4 separate regions of the Homo sapiens genome follow, and all the other regions are linked to region 1. Evidence: fine-mapped expression QTL. A gene starts in region 1. Each other region holds a variant in brackets. All regions are shown on one strand. Distances are between the middles of the regions. Region 1 holds the start of CMIP (c-Maf inducing protein). Region 2 overlaps CMIP (c-Maf inducing protein). Region 3 overlaps CMIP (c-Maf inducing protein). Region 4 overlaps CMIP (c-Maf inducing protein).

Region 1 (2,678 bases):
TTCACTACAGAGGCGCCTTCACTTAAAAAGGCAAAAATCTAGGGTTTTAACGTTATTAGCTGCAGGAGCACGTGGAGATAAGAAAACCTGGCTGAGGAGCTGAGCATTTGCTAGGTGGCCTTAGGTGCCGGCTGCTTGTGATGGCAGAAAGGGAGCTTTTTGCATCCAGGCTGCAGTTCCTGATACCCTGGGTCACAAGAGAATCGAATATGGTTCTCTCGTGGGCTGGTGCTGGGCCTGTGAACTCAGATAAAATGACCAGGTGGGGTCCCAGGGAAGGTGAAGTAGGGGGAGCTGCTGGGGTGCGCACAAGAGGGGTGGCTGTGTAGGTTGGGGGGTGCTTTAAGTGGGTTCCTAGAAGAGGCTCTGTCTCCCTGGGCAGAAGAAAGAAGGGGGATGGGCGGACCGTCCCCTCTCTCCAGAAGGTTTGAGGACCCCCAAGGCCAAAGCCAGCAGACGTCAAAGGCCAGGAGTTCGAGGCCGGCTGGGTCCCGCAGTGGGAGACAGGGCAGGGTGGGCTCATCCTCCGGATCACCGCGGGGACACTTTCAGTCGGGAAGGCGTCCCCGTCCCACGGCCCCATCTGGCCAGCCCGCTGGACAGCCTGGACAGCGGAGGGGGCGTCAGGGGTCGAGGGTTCCAGTCCCCGTCCTTCCACCCAGCCCCCGGCCCTCGGGTATCCTTCTTTACCCGTCCGAGTCCGGCCCGGGGGCGGCGGGGGTGGGTGAGGCGCGGGCCCCCAGGCTCCGGCAGCCTGGCTGGGCTCCCGCCCGGGCACCCGCGGGGGCGCGGCTGGCGTGACGTCACGCGCCCCGCCCCCGCGCCCCGCCCCCTCCCCACATTCCAGGCGGGGCGGGCCGGGACCCCGCGGGGCTCGCCCGCCCCAGCCCCCTCCCCAGGGGCTGCCCCTCCCGTCGGGCCGCGCCTCCCCGTCGTGGGCCGCGACCCCGCCCGGACCGCGGACTCCGCCCGCGAGAGGCCGAAGCCGCCGCGGCCGCCGCCGTTGCCGCCATTGACGTCAGAGGGGCGGGCACATGACCCTGCGGGGACCAATCGCGCGGGCGCCCCGGGCTCCGGGAGCCCGGCGCGCGGCCCGCCCCGCCCGCGGCCACTCTCGCCCGGACGGCCGCGCGGACACACGCTCTGTACACACGCGCGCGGCGGCGCGGGGCCCCGAGACACGCCCGCCCCCACCCCGCCGCCCCCACCCCGGCGCCCGCCCTCCGCGCCTGGCCCCGGCCCGCCCTCGGCCTCCCCCGCCCCTCCCCGTCGCCCGCCGAGCCCGGTCAGCCGCCGCGAGCATGCACCCGACGAGCTAGGAGGAAGCCCGGAGCCCCGCAGGAAGCGCCGAGGCCGGCCCAGCCCGCCGCACGCGCCGCCCCCCGCGGGCAGCGCCCCCTCCCCTGCGGGCGCCCCCAGCCCCACACCCCCCCACCTTCCCGGGGGGTGGGGGGGTGCGGGCCGCCGGATCCGGGGGCCCCGCCGCCCCAGCAGCCCAGGACAGCCCCCTCTCCCCGCCCCCAGCCCCCTCCCCCGGCGCGGCCATGGATGTGACCAGCAGCTCGGGCGGCGGCGGCGACCCCCGGCAGATCGAGGAGACCAAGCCGCTGCTGGGGGGCGACGTGTCGGCCCCCGAAGGCACGAAGATGGGCGCCGTGCCCTGCCGCCGGGCTCTTCTGCTTTGCAACGGGATGAGGTACAAACTGCTGCAGGAGGGCGACATTCAGGTCTGTGTCATCCGGCACCCGCGGACCTTTCTCAGCAAGATCCTCACCTCGAAATTCCTGAGGCGCTGGGAGCCGCACCACCTAACGCTGGCCGACAACAGCCTGGCGTCCGCCACGGTGAGTGGCTCTGCGCGGCTGCACCCCCGCCTCTCCTCGGGGCCCGAGATGCGCCCTCCCTGGCTGCCCCCTGGCGCTGCACCTGGAGCCCAGGGCCTGGGGGGCGGTGGGGGGTGCCGGGGGAACGGGGAGAACCAGGGCGCCTCGCTCCTGGCCTGCTCGCGGGGCTCGATTTTGGAGTCTGAAGCCCAAACCAGCCGACCGGGCTCAGGAGAGACCCTTAAAATGCTGGAGACTCGGCCCACCGCCAGGCTGGGTGCCTGGGGACCTTCTGCCCCCAGCTCTTGTGTTTCTGGTGGCTGGGACTCGAGGATGGACCCGACGCTGGGCCCTGATGGTGGTGGGGGTTCTCTCTGGAAGCCCCTGGCCCATCTGGATCTGAGGGGTGGGGGAGGGGAAAACAAAATACCACCCCTCAGATTTAAAAAAAAAAACAAACAACACAACAAAACCTCCAAACCCCCAAACCCAAAGAATTTCCAGAAGCCAGTTTCTCTGTTTGGTTTACCCGTCCTTTATTCTCTTTCCTGCCAGGGCTGGCAGGCAGAACGGGGTGCTTCCCTTTCTGAAAATCTCATTCGCACATTGAGAGGTTGGAAGTGGAGGGGGAGGGGGCAGTGGTCCTGGAATATCTCAGGACCCAGCGGTGGTCGAGTTCTAGCCTAGAAGCTGCTTGGTGGAGCCCTGGTCCGGCATTGTCTGTAGAGTGTGTGTATACGTGTGTGTTTTGTTGCTGGAGGTTTAATTTTGTTATTGTTTTTAAATACATGGGTAGGACTGGGTCAGCTGGATGAGTCGGAGAGGAAAAACCATTGATCTGTTTCTGAAATCAGA
Region 2 (2,678 bases), 270 kb after region 1:
GCCCGACCCCACCGCCCTCCCGCCCCCACCTGGCGTGTAGTACTGTATAAACCAGTCAGCTGTCGGGTTAGTGGTAGTATTATTGTTATTTTTTTAAAGGAAACAAACAGACAACAAAAAGAAGAAAAAAAAAAAGAACCTCCTTGGAAAAATTAATTGCTTTTTCGTAATGGATTCTCTATGCTAATGCTCTCTCGTCTGTCTGTCTGTCTGCCCACTCCCCCACCCACCACTGTGCGTTTCTGATTTCCAAATGTCTCCAACTCCCTCACGAGGTGGGGCTCAGGCTGGAGGAGGAGGGATTAAGATCCCCTTGCTCCACTAAGGCCCAAGCTCTTTCTCTCGGCACCTTTTAGACTTGAATGGGAGGCTGCTAACCCGCCCTCTCCAGTCCACCCCGGTAAAAGAGCTGTTCCCCACCCCCAGGGAGCTCCTGTCCCTGTCAGCCTTTGCTGTCCCCTGTCCCCAACGGAGACTCTGTCACCCCTGGGCTCCCCCTGCCATCGTGTGCTTCACGTGGCCCCATGCATGCCCGCCTCTCTGCATGGTCTCTTGGGAAAAGAGAGATGTGTCGCCTCCGCCAGTCCGACTGCCCTCCCCACCCCACCCCCGCCACCCCCCACATGTGACCACTGCAACGAAGACACTCCTTCTGTCCCCACCTGCTCCGAAGACAAACCAACCTCCGTTTCTTTTATAAACAGTCGGCTTTTTCTTAATAAGCCCTCACTGTACAGAACAGCCCGTTGATGGTTTATTTGGGGTCCCCCTCTCCCCCCAGCCCTTTTTTCTGTTGGTTTAGCACAAATACTTCCCTCCTCCGGCACCTCCAAACCTACCCCACAGTCAGTGTACTTGTTTTATATATATTTAATCTTATTCAATGGAAACCATGCTTTTGTCGTTTTATACTTTGCTAGGTAGACTTTATTACCCCCCCACTATGCCCTCATTTTTTTAAAAAAGGAAAAAAAAAAGAAACTGGGTTCCAGTCTTAATTCATTTTCCGTGCCAGGTTTTATTTCGTGTGTGTGTGAGTGTGTTCTGTTTTGTGTTTTGTTTTTTGTTGTTGTTTT[T/C]AGTTGTTTGGTTTTCTTTTCTTTCCCCCCTCCGGTCCCATACTTCACAGCACTCTGGTGCGGGAAGAAGCAGAAGCAAAAAAAATAAAAATAAAAAAATAAATAAAAATAAAAAAAATAAAAAAGGAAAAAAAAAAAAGAAGAAACAAGACATGCCACCTTTCCCCTCGCACTGTTGCTTTTCCTGATGGTTAATACTACTGTCACGTAGCTGTGTACAAAGAGATGTGAAATACTTTCAGGCAAAAATAAACTGTAAGTGACTCATCAATGTCTGGCCTTTGTGTGGTTTCTCGGCGCCCAGCGGGAGAAGGTCCAAGGAGGGGGCGAAGCCCAGGCGGGAAATCTGAGGCTCAAGACAGTGCCGGGATGCCCTCGCCACCTTCTGTGCGCACTTCCTGAGGACCAGGGCTCAGCATCCTGGCTGCTGTTGGCCACTGGGGCCGGAGCTGTCTTCGTTGCAGGGGGGCTGTTGTGTTCATTGCCAGACATTGAACAGCATCCTTGGCTTCTACCCAGCAGTAGCACCCCTTCCCCATTTATGACAACCAGAGTGTCTCCAGATGTTGCCACGTGTCCCGTGGGGGGATAGTTCGCTCCCCAGCTGAGACTCCGTGTCATAGACTGAGGTCAGTGCTGCTGTTCAGCAGGGCCTTACGAAAGCTGTAGCCCAGAGCTACTCCAAGGAATGTGCCTTCCATCCACCTAGGGGGTCTTGTGAAAACGCAGATACTGACGCCATAGCGCTAGGTGGTGCCTGGGAATCTGCATTCCTGACGAGTTTCCAGGTGATGCTGTGCTGCTGGTCAATGCCAGGTTCCTAGACCCACACTTCAGCTGCCTCCTCCCCCTAGATGTCTCCAAGAGGCAATCTTGACAAGTCCAAAAATAAATGCTTTATCTTGGCCAGGCACGGTGGCTCACTCCTGTAATCCCAATACTTTGGGAGGCCGAGGCGGGTGGATCACAAGGTCAAGAGATCGAGACCATCCTGGCCAACATGGTGAAACCCTGTCTCTACTAAAAATACAAAAATTAGCTGGGCGTGGTGGCGTGTGCCTGTAGTCCCAGCTATTCGGGAGGCTGAGGCAGGAGAATCGCTTAAACCCGGGAGGCAGAGGTTGCAGCAAGCCGAGATTGCGCCTCTGCACTCTAGCCTGGCGACAGAGCAGGACTCCGTCTCAAAAAAAAAAAAGTAAAGAAAAAATGCTTTATCTTCACCCCTCTTCCTAAACCAGTCACCCTTCAGGGTCCCCCAGCTCAGCAGGGGTATCCTTGTCCTCAGCCCAGGCATGTCCTGCCTCCACATGCTGACAGAAATCCAGGATGTCCACGAGCCAGTCCTCTGCCTCTCCACCATGGGCCCGGCCCGAAACCAGCTCTCCAGAGACTCTGTGTCTGGAGTTGCCCCCTGCCAGCCCCCACCGTCCCCACACCATCCAGCTCCCTCTGCTACCTGCCCCACCTCTCTCTATGCCCTGGTGGCCTCCTTCCAGAGGCCTCTGCCAGGTCTTTTTAAGACAGGTGAGAAGGCTGGGTGCGGTGGCTCATGCCTGTAACCCCAGCACTTTGGGAGCCCGAGGCGGGTACATCACCTGAGGT
Region 3 (2,678 bases), 260 kb after region 1:
CCAGCCGCACCCTTCACCTCGTGGCCTCCAGGTAGCCTGTCCACCTGCCAAGAACACACACACCCAGCCCCACAGGTCACCCCTCACCTGCTGCTGCTCCTCTCTCTCCCTGCACGCTCCAAAGTCCCCAGAAGCCTGAGACTCCCAGAGCAACTGTCCCAAAGTCCCCAGAAGCCTGAGACTCCCAGAGCAACTGTCCCAAGGGAACCAAGGCAGAAGCCATGTCACTTTTTAACTTAGCCTCCCTTGGAAGGCAGGCGGCATCACTTCTGCCACATCCTCCTGCTGGCAGTGAGTCACCGCGGCCGGCCCTCAGTCAAAGCCGTGGGAGCTAGACTTCACCCCTCAGTGGGAAGAGCATCGAAGAGTTGGCAGGCGCAGCAAAGCCATGGGAGCTCCCGTGGAAATGAGAGTTCGGGCAGATGTGAGCCCTGGGGAAGAGGCAGCGGGAAGGTGGGAGCTGAGCAGGCTGTGGGGACATCCCGGGCGGAGGCTTGCTGGAGGCCAGGGTGGCTGGAACACAGGGAGCCAAGGGGCAAGAGGTCTGGGATGTGGCTGGATGGGCATGAAGAGCCTTCTGGGTACCTAGAGGTGCTGGGAAGGAGTTTGGATTTAATCTTGGCTGTCCTGTGACAGGGATTCGGAGGCCATGGGGGAGGGCTGAGCAGGGAGACAGGAGACAGGCAAGAGGCGCTGTGAGAAGCGTGGGCTGAGTGACCTGCTCCTTGGTGAGTGAGAAGTTCTAGAACTGAGCACCATGGCATGCACCTGTAGTTCCAGCAACTTGGGATGCTGAGGTAGGAGGATCACTTGAGCCCAGGAGGTTGAAACTAGCCTGGGCAACATAGCAAGACCTCATCTCAAAAAAAAAAAAAATCGTCATTGGAAAGGGAATGTCAGAGGCAGGGCTGTCAGGCGTGTTGACCCCCAGGCCGAAGAGCCACATGTGCAGTCATGAGGCCCTCTAGGAAGCTGTGTGGTAGATGGGCCCAGGGCTCTGAGCCATTCCGTGAGTTTGAGCACCTACTTCATGACAGCCACTGGGGAAGGAACTGGGGAGAGAGAGGTGTCTTAACTTCTGGCCTTTCCACCAGTGCTCAGGGGCCTGCAAACATCCCCCGGGGGCCTGCCCCATGTCCAGACACCGCAC[G/A]GTAAGCAGATGCCTGGGAGACTCCCATGTCCATTGACATTTGAACCTGGAGAACCTCAGTGCGTGGTCACTGGTGCTACCATTGTACAAGCAGGAAGTTGGGCAGGTGATTTGCCCAGGCTTACACAGCCGGGGCTGCAGAAAGGGGATAGTGGGGTTGCTGGTTTTCAAAACAAGGCCCTTGGGGTGCACAGAGTGTGCTGAGCTAGGGTGGCAGGCCGGGTCCGTAATGCACCCCTGCGGTTCTGGACAGATCCTGTGCTTGATGCTGGAATACAACATCATCGACAACAACGACACCCAACTGCAGATCATCTCAACCCTGGAGAGCACAGACGTGGGGAAGCGCATGTACGAGCAGCTGTGTGACCGGCAGCGGGAGCTGAAGGAGCTGGTGAGTCCCCGGCTGCTCCGGACCACTCCCCTGCCCAGCAGGCCAGGGGGGGCCAGGGCGGGATGCGGGGCAGCTAGTACTTGGACCTGAGTGGACCTCAATCTCGTTGAATTCTCCTCCAAACCCCAGAAATTGGTATTACCACCTGCCACTTTTCAGGTAATCAAAGAGAAGCAAAGCAATCCCCAGAGTCACACAGCTCATTGGGGCCTGGCCAGGACATTGCCCACCCTCCCTCCTCCATGTCCCTTAGACCCTTCCATTTCAGTACATGGGGGACCCAACTTCCAAATGCCAGCACCCACACCTCTTTGCTGAAGGACTTTGTATGTCCACATGCATATACTCACACATGTGTACACAGAAGGACGGAAGGGGCAGGAAATTCATGCCTTCTGATCTCCTGGAGCAGCCCTCAACCAGTCCCTTCTGGGGAGAGTGTGTAGAAATACCCCAGCTCCCTCACCCCTTCAGTGAGATATGTTTGAGACATGGCTTCTCCACCATTTCTTAGAGTCCCCCGGTGGGATTTGGTGCCAGTACCCACCCAGTGATAGCTGGATTGATAACACCCCTTCCATTATAGGTAGCCACAGTGTCACTTCCCCACTCTCCCACTGGTGTTTCTTGGGATCACCCTCCAGTAAACCACCTGTGCTCAAACCTCATCTCCGGGTTTGCCCCTGAGACCAAGACCACCGTGTTGCCTTGTACCACCAAGAAAATAACGATGGCTCCATGAGTGTTGTTAACAGAGGTGGAAGTCTAGAATGGAAACTTGGGGAAAAGAATGGTTGTAACCAGCCTGGTTTCTGTTGCAGCAAAGGAAAGGCGGGCCCACCAGGCTAACACTGCCCTCCAAGTCCACAGTGAGTTGGTTTGGTTCTCTTTGGGGCTGGATGGAGAAGGTGGGTTGGTCCTCTCTGTTGGGGAACGGCAGGTGGTGTCTGCTGCTGAGATGGGAGGTGATGGAGGGCGGGGCACAAGGACCCCCTAGTACTTAACACGCCAGCTCTTCCAGGAGGTAGCTGGGTTACAGGAAGAGAAATGAAAACCAAAAAGGAAGTTAAAATATGATACAGATTGTTGGTGATAATAGTGTTGATATCTAGTTATTAATAGTACTTGGAATAA
Region 4 (2,678 bases), 29 kb after region 1:
CTGCCTCAGTTTCCTCGTCTATAAGATGAGATTAGCAGCAGTGTTTATGACCTGGAATTGTGGTCAGGATTCCATGAGAGGATGTATGAACCAACTTGAGAGCAAGGCTCAGAACCCCAGAAGTGCTTCGTGAAGATGAGCTGTTCGTATTTCCAGTGTCCTTCATGGTGGCTCATCTGGCCGCCCGTTCTGGTATCCTGTGTGTGGCGTGCCCCATGCGTGGAGGAGTGGCCCATCTCCCCAGGGGTCCCCTGGGTCTTGTAGGCACTGATCACAGCCACTCACTTGACACCGTTGAGTGTCAGCTACATGCCATGCCCTGTCCTAGGGTGCCCCAACATGGGCCCTGCTCTCAGGAACCTGAGCATTCACTGGGGGTGGCACCCGCAAATGTGTCAGCCAATCACCAGAGCCCCTTCAGAGGTGGCAGGTGCTAGGACAGTAGAGGGGCAGGGTGAAGGGGTGGAGAGATGGGAGGCCCCTCAGGAGGTGGCCTGGAGGCAGGAGCTGATCCTGTGCAGATGTGGAGAGGCCGTTGGGATGGTGAGTGCAGAGGCCCTGGGGTGGCTGAGGTGCACAGTGGGGTGTGGAGGCTGGAGGGACATCCAGGGGCACATCGTGGCATCTGTGGTGATCTGCAGCCTGCGCCCAGTACTTTGTCCTGTTCCTTTCGGGGCTTGGCCACACCGCAGCTGCCCAGTGAGTGTGTGAGGGGCTGGTCTGTTTAACTGCTTGCCCTGAAGGTGCGAGGAGAGCCTGTTCGCCTTGCATCCAGTGGGCCAAGCTTACATAGATCCCATCTCCTCTGCATACCCTCAGCATCCTGATCTATAAAATGGGAGTGAATATAGCACCTTCAGCCACACCACCAGCCTGCCTGCGGCCCCTGCCTCCTGCCCGGCCTCCTCTGAGGTCAGTGCCTTCAGCTCCTGCTGCACTGGTGGCCACCGCCTGCAAGTGCTTATGTCGGCCTCTGTCTCTGCAGGACGACGTGAACAGGCTGCGGCTGTCACTGACGTGTCTTCCTTCGTGTTTGCCGTGGGGGGCATATAATTGCATTCCTCATGAGGGAATGACACAGAAAGGGCAGGGGGTGTCAGCAGGGGCCGCTCTGTAATTTCCATGTCTGGGACGGATTTCAGGACTGAGCTGTTTTCCTCTTTGACCCGGCAGAGGCTGTTGCCCAAGTCAACAGTGGTGCG[T/C]TTTTGAATTTGTCTTTGTTGGTTTTCTTTTTCCCTTTCTTCTTCTTTTTAAAATAGGTCTTTTTTTTTTTTTTTCCATCCTATGAAATAAAACTGGAGACTTGGTTGTAGTGGGTAAGAATTAGCAGTTCCTGTCCTTTTGGTGTGGGAGTTGGGCGGGGGTTGACTTAAATATTTATTTCCCATTAAGGGATTCATGGGCTTGGACGCTTGTGTTGGAATGGGGTGATCTCAAATCTCACTCATGATTTTCGACCCCTGTAGGACTTGGGCCTGCCTTTGGGGGACGCGGGGACGCAGGGACGCATTGAGCAGAAGCTGCAAGCGGATGACCCATGGGCCAAGTCAAGTCTGCTGACGTGTTTTACTTGGCCCACACAGTGGTTTTTTTTTTTTTTTTTTTTCTTAAAGCTTCAGTAAGTTGTCTGCCTTTAAAGTTGGGAGCATTCCCCTAAAAAGTTCCGGATATCCATTTTCTAATAATAACAACAGAAGCAAACATTTCTATGTGACTTACCACAGGCCTGGCTCAGCTCTAGACGACTCCCATCCCTTTGCTCCTGGGATCCCCAGACAGTTCCGAGGTGGTGCTTCCTGTGATCATCCCCATTCTACAGCTAAAGAAGCAGAGGCAGGCCTTTAACCGGGCACTCCTGGCTGTGCCCATGTTCCTGTGTGGCCACCCCTTCAGGCTGGGCACGGCCTCTCCACTCCCCCAGCCTCCTAGCCCACTGTACTCAGGTTCCCCCCTGCTCAGAGCTTGTGGGCGTGGACTTTGTACCCCCCGGGCTTGGAGAGGGCAAGGTGACTGTGGGAGTCCAGCTGCTGCTCCTTAAGTTGAGTTGTCTGTCACTGACTTACCCTCCCTCCCTCTCTCCCTACTGTCTCCATTCTTCTCTTTCCCCCTTCTTTCTCCTGCACCCTCTTTTTCCATTCCTCCCTTCCCCCTTCCTTTCTCCGCTCTCTCTTTCCTTCACTCCCTTCCTCCCATTCATCTGGTGCTTACCGGGGGCCACCAGGTAGGCACGTCGCACACTACTTCTGCTTCATGTGAGGGGTTCATGGTGGCTTCTCCCTACCTTCAGACCACACCTCTGGTGGGAGGTGCTGCGTGAGGATCCCAGGGGTGAACTGAGTCAGGTCAGAGGAGCAGGGAGCCCCAGCCCCTGGTGTCTTCTTACTGTGTGGTCTCTTCCGTGTCACCGCACTTCTGTGGAAGGGGAATGATGGGGGAAGTGGAGGAACCACTGTCCGCCTGCGGAGGGGCCTCAGTGTTGGCCGTGCTCATGGCGCCCTCCTCCTGGGGCTCCCTCTCCTCTGGTCCTGCCTCTCCTGCACGCCCTTCCTGCCTCCTTGGTGCCAGGGGAGCCAGCCCAGGACAGTCTCTGTGCCTAGGCCCTGCCAGCCTGGCTGCCCTGCCTCCAGCCATGGGGGGCGGGCGGGGAGGGAGTCGACCAGTGCTTGTCTTTGCAGAAC

The links. PIP is the estimated chance that this variant, and not a neighbour inherited with it, causes the effect.
Region 2: its variant is fine-mapped to the expression of CMIP in whole blood (TOPMed, PIP above 0.99).
Region 3: its variant is fine-mapped to the expression of CMIP in whole blood (TOPMed, PIP above 0.99). The same link has a PIP of 0.9 or more in T cells, blood mononuclear cells, lung, sun-exposed skin, thyroid and tibial nerve.
Region 4: its variant is fine-mapped to the expression of CMIP in whole blood (TOPMed, PIP above 0.99).

Annotation. Positions count from the first base shown.
Region 1 is chr16:81,443,698-81,446,375 of GRCh38, forward strand. CMIP (c-Maf inducing protein) reads left to right here and starts at 1,111. Exons shown (of 21, transcript NM_198390.3): 1 at 1,111-1,844. The coding sequence starts at 1,545. RefSeq lists enhancers at 1-484, 2,649-2,678 and silencers at 694-793, 904-1,253, 1,324-1,373, 1,804-2,103.
Region 2 is chr16:81,710,416-81,713,093 of GRCh38, forward strand. It overlaps CMIP (c-Maf inducing protein), which reads left to right. Exons shown (of 21, transcript NM_198390.3): 21 at 1-1,347. Among named protein-coding and RNA genes, the nearest start is that of PLCG2, 68 kb to the right of the region's middle. RefSeq lists enhancers at 1,124-1,806, 2,489-2,678. The variant T/C (reference allele first, on the strand shown) is at 1,077.
Region 3 is chr16:81,700,257-81,702,934 of GRCh38, forward strand. It overlaps CMIP (c-Maf inducing protein), which reads left to right. Exons shown (of 21, transcript NM_198390.3): 16 at 1,404-1,544; 17 at 2,366-2,413. Among named protein-coding and RNA genes, the nearest start is that of PLCG2, 78 kb to the right of the region's middle. The variant G/A (reference allele first, on the strand shown) is at 1,151.
Region 4 is chr16:81,472,226-81,474,903 of GRCh38, forward strand. The region is part of intron 1 of CMIP (c-Maf inducing protein); the gene reads left to right. Among named protein-coding and RNA genes, the nearest start is that of CMIP, 29 kb to the left of the region's middle. The variant T/C (reference allele first, on the strand shown) is at 1,203.